2 linked regions of the Homo sapiens genome follow. The protein of the gene in region 1 interacts with the protein of each later gene in a biochemical or structural test. Each region holds a gene or a part of one and is shown on either strand. Other genes may lie near its edges.

Region 1 (3,653 bases):
TAGAGGCTGAGATAGGAGGACCCTAGAACTCAGGAGTTCGATGCTGCGGTGAGCTATCATCGTGCCACTGTACTCTAGCCTGGGCAGCAGAGCAGGACTCTGATTCCAAAAAGAAAGCTAATAAACCAGACATGTATTTTGACTTTTCGTTCTCTTCATTCTTTCCCACCAGGCTTGGGCACTGTTTAAAGGAAAGTTCCGAGAAGGCATCGACAAGCCGGACCCTCCCACCTGGAAGACGCGCCTGCGGTGCGCTTTGAACAAGAGCAATGACTTTGAGGAACTGGTTGAGCGGAGCCAGCTGGACATCTCAGACCCGTACAAAGTGTACAGGATTGTTCCTGAGGGAGCCAAAAAAGGTAGGGGCTCTCCTGAATTTGGGTCACCTAACAGAGGCAGCCAGATCCTTGAGGCACCTTAACTTCATTCTGAGCATCACTTTCTAGCTTTCCTTTTGTATTGCCTGCCTGCCTGCCTTCTGCCTCACAGTGAAGCCCAGCCTCCTTGCCTGAGTTATGTGGGTCACAAGTTGAAATTCCTGTGGGGTTCAGCATAGGAGAATTAATCACACTGTATGCCTCAATGTATATGGGGGGGGGTGCATTGAATATGTGTTTTCCAGTTAGTCTTTCAAAAAAAAAAAGAAAAAAGAAAACTGGATAACTTGTTAAAATTTACTTATCTAATAGTCTTTAGTGAGTGACTATTTTGCAGAAAAGGAGTAATGAGAGGAATATCTCATCACTATGCATGGTAATAAAACTGTCAACTTTTAAAGTGTAACATGGTCAGCTGAGGTGTTTATTAAAAGTCAGATTCCTGGACCCCTCTTTTCAAGATTCTGACCAGTGTGTCTGGAAGAGAGCTCAGGAATCTGCATCTGGAACAAATCCTTCAGGTGACCTCACTTGGGAAACATCTGGCTGGCGGGGTCCTTTATGTCACAAGGCACATTCGCATGCCATCTGTCATGTATTTCTTTACCTGTCCTGTACAACTCAGACCTTGTAGAAAAAAATCAGTTTAATAGCATGAAAAAATAACTTCCCAAGGGAGTTGCTGAAAAATACCTTATTTGTCAACACCGTGTTATGCATTCTAAGAATTAAATGCTCAGGTATTTTTACAAGATTTGACATTTAGTTAGGTCAGTTCCTGTTTTTACGTTGTGCCATTTCCCTTTTCCCCAAACATGTAGGAGCCAAGCAGCTCACCCTGGAGGACCCGCAGATGTCCATGAGCCACCCCTACACCATGACAACGCCTTACCCTTCGCTCCCAGCCCAGGTATGGTGGAGGGCACTGGGCTCCCTGAGGGCGAGGCTGTGTGGGCCAGCTGCCCACATGGCCAGAGAACCACAGCAGCCCAGACAGCAGAACTTGCCATTTGCTATGGCTGCTCCAACAGCCCAGAAAAACCCCAGGTCACTGAACGAATGTCTCACTTTCCACACGGTGCTGCCATTGGTGTGGATTTTAAGTTGGGGAGGGTCGGGCGTGTCCGCCTGTTGGAATATGCTTCTCAGGTCTTCTGGGAAACAGATGTTTTGTGGAAGTGGAAGATTTTGGAAGTAGTGCCTTATCATGTGAAACCACAGGGCAGCTGATCTCTTCAGGCTTTCTTGATGTGAATGACAGCTTTGTTTCATCCACTTTGGTGGGTAAAAGAAGGCAAATTCCCCTGTGGTACTTTTGGTGCCAGGTTTAGCCATATGACGAAGCTTTACATAAAACAGTACAAGTATCTCCATTGTCCTTTATGATCCTCCATGAGTGTTTTCACTTAGTCTGATGAAGGGTTCACTCCAGTCTTTTCGGATGATAAAATGCTTCGGCTGTCAGTCTAATAAGGGATTCCCTGAGGAGTTTGGAGGCTGTAAGAGCACCCCCCGTCTCAATGCCAGTGCTTCTTATCTCAGCCTCTCCTGCACTCCTTTACCCCCGTCTCGATGCCAGTGCTTCCTATCTCAGCCTCTCCTGCACTCCTTTACCCCCGTCTCGATGCCAGTGCTTCCTATCTCAGCCTCTCCTGCACTCCTTTACCCCCGTCTCGATGCCAGTGCTTCTTATCTCAGCCTCTCCTGCACTCCTTTACCCCCGTCTCAATGCCAGTGCTTCCTATCTCAGCCTCTCCTGCACTCCTTTAACCCCGTCTCGATGCCAGTGCTTCTTATCTCAGCCTCTCCTGCACTCCTTTACCCCCGTCTCAATGCCAGTGCTTCCTATCTCAGCCTCTCCTGCACTCCTTTACCCCCGTCTCAATGCCAGTGCTTCCTATCTCAGCCTCTCCTGCACTCCTTTACCCCCGTCTCGATGCCAGTGCTTCTTATCTCAGCCTCTCCTGCACTCCTTTACCCCCGTCTCGATGCCAGTGCTTCCTATCTCAGCCTCTCCTGCACTCCTTTACCCCCGTCTCAATGCCAGTGCTTCTTATCTCAGCCTCTCCTGCACTCCTTTAGCAGGTTCACAACTACATGATGCCACCCCTCGACCGAAGCTGGAGGGACTACGTCCCGGATCAGCCACACCCGGAAATCCCGTACCAATGTCCCATGACGTTTGGACCCCGCGGCCACCACTGGCAAGGCCCAGCTTGTGAAAATGGTAAGGAGGATACCAGTGCAGGAAATAGAAGAGCTAATTGCTAATGTGGCCATGGGCCATGGCGAATCCTGGTCTGTCCTGGGCAGCACCAAAGCTCTTTCCCCTTCTTAGAGGCTGCGTGTGCAGCTCGGGGAGAGGGGGGTTTTCTCACTCCTGTGGGATGGTGGCATCCCACAGCCAAGTTTACTCTCAGGATCCATGCTAGGCACTGCCCTTCGTGGGATCTTATTTAAACACCACAGAGATCACTCCAGGCAGTGGAAAACAGCCCCCCACTTTTTATATAGAGAGGAGATTGTGGAAGCTCATAAATAATAAGTAGGGATGCTGGGAGATTATTGAGCTGGTATATTTCTCTCGAATAGTGGTGTGTTCATTGTTGCTATTGTTGGAATTAGAGGTGATACTAAAAAAGGAACGGAAAAATACCATGGCAAACACATAAAACGTCTCTACAGGTGCCTACCTACCACTGGGTCCCAGAAAGACTTGCTGATTGTGGATTAGATGTGGTCCCCTGCCCTCGGGAGTTCCCCAGACATCAAAATGAGCTCCCTCAGCAGAAGCTCTCATTAGCTGGGTGCAGGGAGAATCTAGCAATGCGGTAACTCAGGCCTTCAGGACTTTTGAGTTAGTTACTTAAATGGAAGTCCTGAGACAGGTCAACACACTGAACCCTTTGGATGTTTTAGGAATATTTGTTCCTTTGCAATTTGGCCTTTTTTTCCCCAGTCATGTTCAGGTTATCCTTGGCTGCAGGTAGTGAAGAGGTGTACCACTCTTTAATGTTTGTACTGAGTGGCATGTTCACAAAAAAGCTCAGAATTCAGTTGCATTGGCTTTTCAAGAGGGATTTGCAGCAAGGGCTGGTTTCCAATATGGTAGTGGAGGAATTGGCTAACATAAAACTAGCTCCTGAAATTCAGACTTGCGTTTACTGCTCTGGCTCTATGGAATTAGTAACCATGGGAAAGAGGCAATGCTTAGAACTGTGTAAAGTGATGGAGTAGGTAGAGACCTGTCTTGAAGCATCGGTAACAGTAAATGAA
Region 2 (3,653 bases), on another chromosome or scaffold:
TTATTGTGTGTAAAGGGACAGTGTCATATCTCAGGAATTAAGCAAGTTCGGAAAGGAACCTCCATGAGAGCCAGGGGTTGTGGGCTCTTAAATAGCACATTCTCCTTTTCTCAGAATTTCCATTTTTACTGATCAAGTATGTAGATTCTTTGTTTTAAATCTGCTCTTCTCTGTTACTTTTACACCACCTTTTGGAGTGGTCCCCATCTTTGCTAAAGTTACTTATTTGATACTTTAACTTTCACTTTAGACTGTGTGCTCCCCTTATGGAGCCCTGGAACCTAGCATGGTACCTGCACCTAAGAGACCTTTAGTAAATACTAAAGGAAAATTCATGATAGGTTTTTTTCTGGAGGAACGGAATACTTAATATTTGTGTTTATTATAATATTTGAAAATAGCTGGGCCTGGTGGCTGACGCCTGTAATCCCATCATTTTGGGAGGCCGAGAGGGCAGATCACTTTAGGGCTGGAGTTCGAGACCTGCTTGGCCAACATGGAGAAACCCCGTCTCTACTAAAAATACAAAAATTAGCTGGGCGTGGTGGTGCGTGCCTGTAATCACAGCTATTCAGGAGGCTGAGGCAGCAGAATTGCTTGAACCTGGGAGGCGGAGGTGGCAGTGAGCCGAGATTGCACCAATGTACTCTAGCCTGGGCAACAGAGTGAGACTCCACTTCAAAAAAAAAGGCAATTGACCTTTAAGTTGTGTTTCTTGGCCGGGTGCAGTGGCTCGCACCTGTAATCCCAGTACTTTGGGAAGCCGGGGCGGGCGGATCACGAGGTCAGGAGCTAGAGACCATCCTGGTGAACATGGTGAACCCTTGTCTCTACTAAAAATACAAAAAAGTAGCCGGGTGTGGTAGCACGCACCTGTAGTCCCAGCTACTTGGGAGGCTGAGGCAGGAGAATTGCTTGAACCCAGAAGGCGGAGGTTGCAGTGAGCTGAGATCACGCCATTGCATTCCAGCCTGGACGAAAGAGTGAGACTCCGTCTCAAAAAATAAATAAATAAATAGGGCCAGGTGCAGTGGCTCACGTCTGTAATCCTAGCACTTTGGGAGGCCAAGGCCGGTGGATCATCTGAGGTCAGGAGTTCGAGACCAGCCTGACCAACATGGTGAAACCCCGTCTCTACTAAAAAGATATAAAAATTAGCTGGGCATGGTGGCGCACACCTGTAATCCCTGCTACTCAGGAGGCTGAGGTAGGAGAATCGCTTGAACCTGGGAGGTGAAGGTTGCAGTGAGCCGAGATCGTGCCATTGCACTCTAGCCTGGGTGACAGAGTGAGACTCCATCTCAGATAGATAGATAGATAGATAGATAGATAGATAGATAGATAGATAGATAGAGTGGCTAGAGTGAGACTGTCTCGGATGGATAGATGGATGGATGATGGATGGATGGATGGAAGGAATGGATGGAATGGAAGATAGATAGTGTTTCTTACCAAGCTGTCTTCTTGAGTGTTGAGTGTGCGTTTCATTTAAGCCCTTTTCTCTCTGTGGGCCTAATGGTGAAGTTGCAAGAGTGAGAGACCATGTGCTGTGATGGCCAGTAGACAGGATGGCAGGGCTTCTGAATCTCATTGTGCCTGCAGGTGGCTCATTTAAGCTCTCTGAGACTGCCTCCTCATCGTGGAATAGCAGTGCCCAGTCTGCCTGTCTTGCAAGGGTGTGGTGAGAGTCACATGTGAATTCAAGTTAAATGCAAAGGAATAGATTTAACTTCATATACACAGAACAAAATCTGGAAGGAAACACCATAGTTATGTATTAAATAAAATTTTTAACATTGAAATGGTAGGAAATTATATACATATTGTTTTCCATTTATGTGCCAGGAGAAGATGAGGAAGAAATGGAGCATCAGGAAGAAGGCAAAGAGCAGCTTTCAGAAACAGAAGGCAGTGGGGAAGATGAGCCAGGAAATGACCCCAGTGAGACCACCCAAAAGAAGATCAAAGGCCAGCCCTGCCCAAAAAGGCTTTTTACCTTCAGTCTTGTGAACTCCTATGGAACAGCTGACATAAATTCACTTGCAGCTGATGGAAAACTACTTAAACTCAACTGTAAGCACTTTTTCTGACCTTTCAAGCTGGGCTTTAGGGTCTTAGGATCTGTTTGAAAATCCTTACACTTGACACTCACTGCATTGGGCTTTCACAGTCTCTGTGCCTCCAGGAGCAGCACTTGTATGACCCTTGGCTTGAAGCCCCCTAAGGACTGTTTCAGAGATCCCCCTACCTTTCAGGCTTTTCTCCTCAGTCCTCGATGACCTCAGAGGAAAGTAGGTCTCCCTCCACTCCCTCTGCGGGAATTTGCTGTGGGTCGATAACCTTTCCTGTGGCCACCCTTGGCAGCAACATTTCCCCATACTTGCTCACTTATAAGAATAAGCGCATATTTATTTTGTTCATTAATACTCACGAAATGTACCCATTCAGAGGATGGTCATGGATTTTGTAGCCTCACCGACACATGGAGGTTGTAATGGGGACTGCTCTACAGACAGGAAGAGGCATTCTGAGGGGTTGTGTGAAAAGCACAATTGGCCAGTGAGGACACCTTTGCCAGTTAGGGGAGGAGAAGCATCTCTGTCTTTCAGCTCCCTTCCCACCTCACCCTCCTGAGTAGCTGAGACTACAGGTGTGCACCACCACACCCAGCTAATATTTGTAGTTTGTGTAGAGACAGGGTCTCACTATGTTGCCCAGGCTGGAATGCCTTGCAAATTCTAGCCATCTTCTCAAACTCCAGTCTTTGACTTTTCAGCTTAATCTTCCCCTCTCTCCCCTATGCTAAGTCCTGGAAACTGCCTGCAGGCAATAAGCTAGGGCGATGTAGGGGTCTCTTTTTTTTTTTCCTTCTGTCAGGGATCTCCTTCCTGCTCTATCCAATGTCTGAAAACAATTGTTTCATCCATTTTGTCAGTTTTTTTGTGGTTTATGGTAGGATGATAAATCTGGTCCCTATTACTCCCATCTTGACCTGTGCCCTTTCAGAATTCTCCACAGTTAGTTCCTTCGTAGCTTATCTGTATCACTGAGGAAGTCTTTGCCAAAGGCTTTTTGGGGCTGGGGGTCAGAAGGGCTGGCCCATTGCAGAGCATTGCTCTTGACACTGGCTGCTGATGGGGGAGAAGGTGTTGATGGTGTGGCCTGAGTGTGGTCCTTCTCACTCCTGTCACTTGGAGAGCCTTTCCTGTTGCTTGCCATTCCATAACAAGTGACATTTTGGTCCTCCTCAGCTCGATCTACACTGGCCATGGATTGGGACAGTGAAACTCGGAGACTTTACTATGATGAGCAAGAATCTGAGGTAGGTCCCTCGGGGTTCGTGGTCGGTGGTGTCTGCTGGTTTCTGCTCTGGATGTGGACTGCGATCACTTTCACCAGTTGGACAGCAATTTAGCAAGTTATATTTAAGACTGAGAAGGAAAAGCACTTCAAGATTTTGTCATTTTATATTCAGAGGCTCTAGAAAGTGTACTACATTCCAGGTGGGAGAGCCTCTGTAGGCCTTCATGTCTTAATGCAGTAAGATCTCTTTCTCCAGCAGAACTGAGTGCTTTGATTCCCATAGGCCTACGAGAAGCATGTGAGCATGTTGCAGCCTCAGAAGAAGAAGAAGACCACAGTGGCCCTGAGAG

What was found. Proteins that work in one complex are often made in the same cells at the same time.
Region 2: of the proteins of IRF4 (region 1) and USP4, one has a biochemical effect on the other in vitro, tested with the Homo sapiens proteins (one study listed by BioGRID).

What each region holds. Positions count from the first base shown.
Region 1 is NC_000006.12:394,649-398,301, forward strand, and holds part of IRF4 (interferon regulatory factor 4), read left to right. Parts: intron 1-172; coding exon 173-359; intron 360-1,198; coding exon 1,199-1,287; intron 1,288-2,459; coding exon 2,460-2,604; intron 2,605-3,653. UniProt on the Homo sapiens protein: Transcriptional activator. Binds to the interferon-stimulated response element (ISRE) of the MHC class I promoter. Binds the immunoglobulin lambda light chain enhancer, together with PU.1.
Region 2 is NC_000003.12:49,284,518-49,288,170, reverse strand, and holds part of USP4 (ubiquitin carboxyl-terminal hydrolase 4), read left to right. Parts: intron 1-1,845; coding exon 1,846-2,073; intron 2,074-3,251; coding exon 3,252-3,322; intron 3,323-3,586; coding exon 3,587-3,653.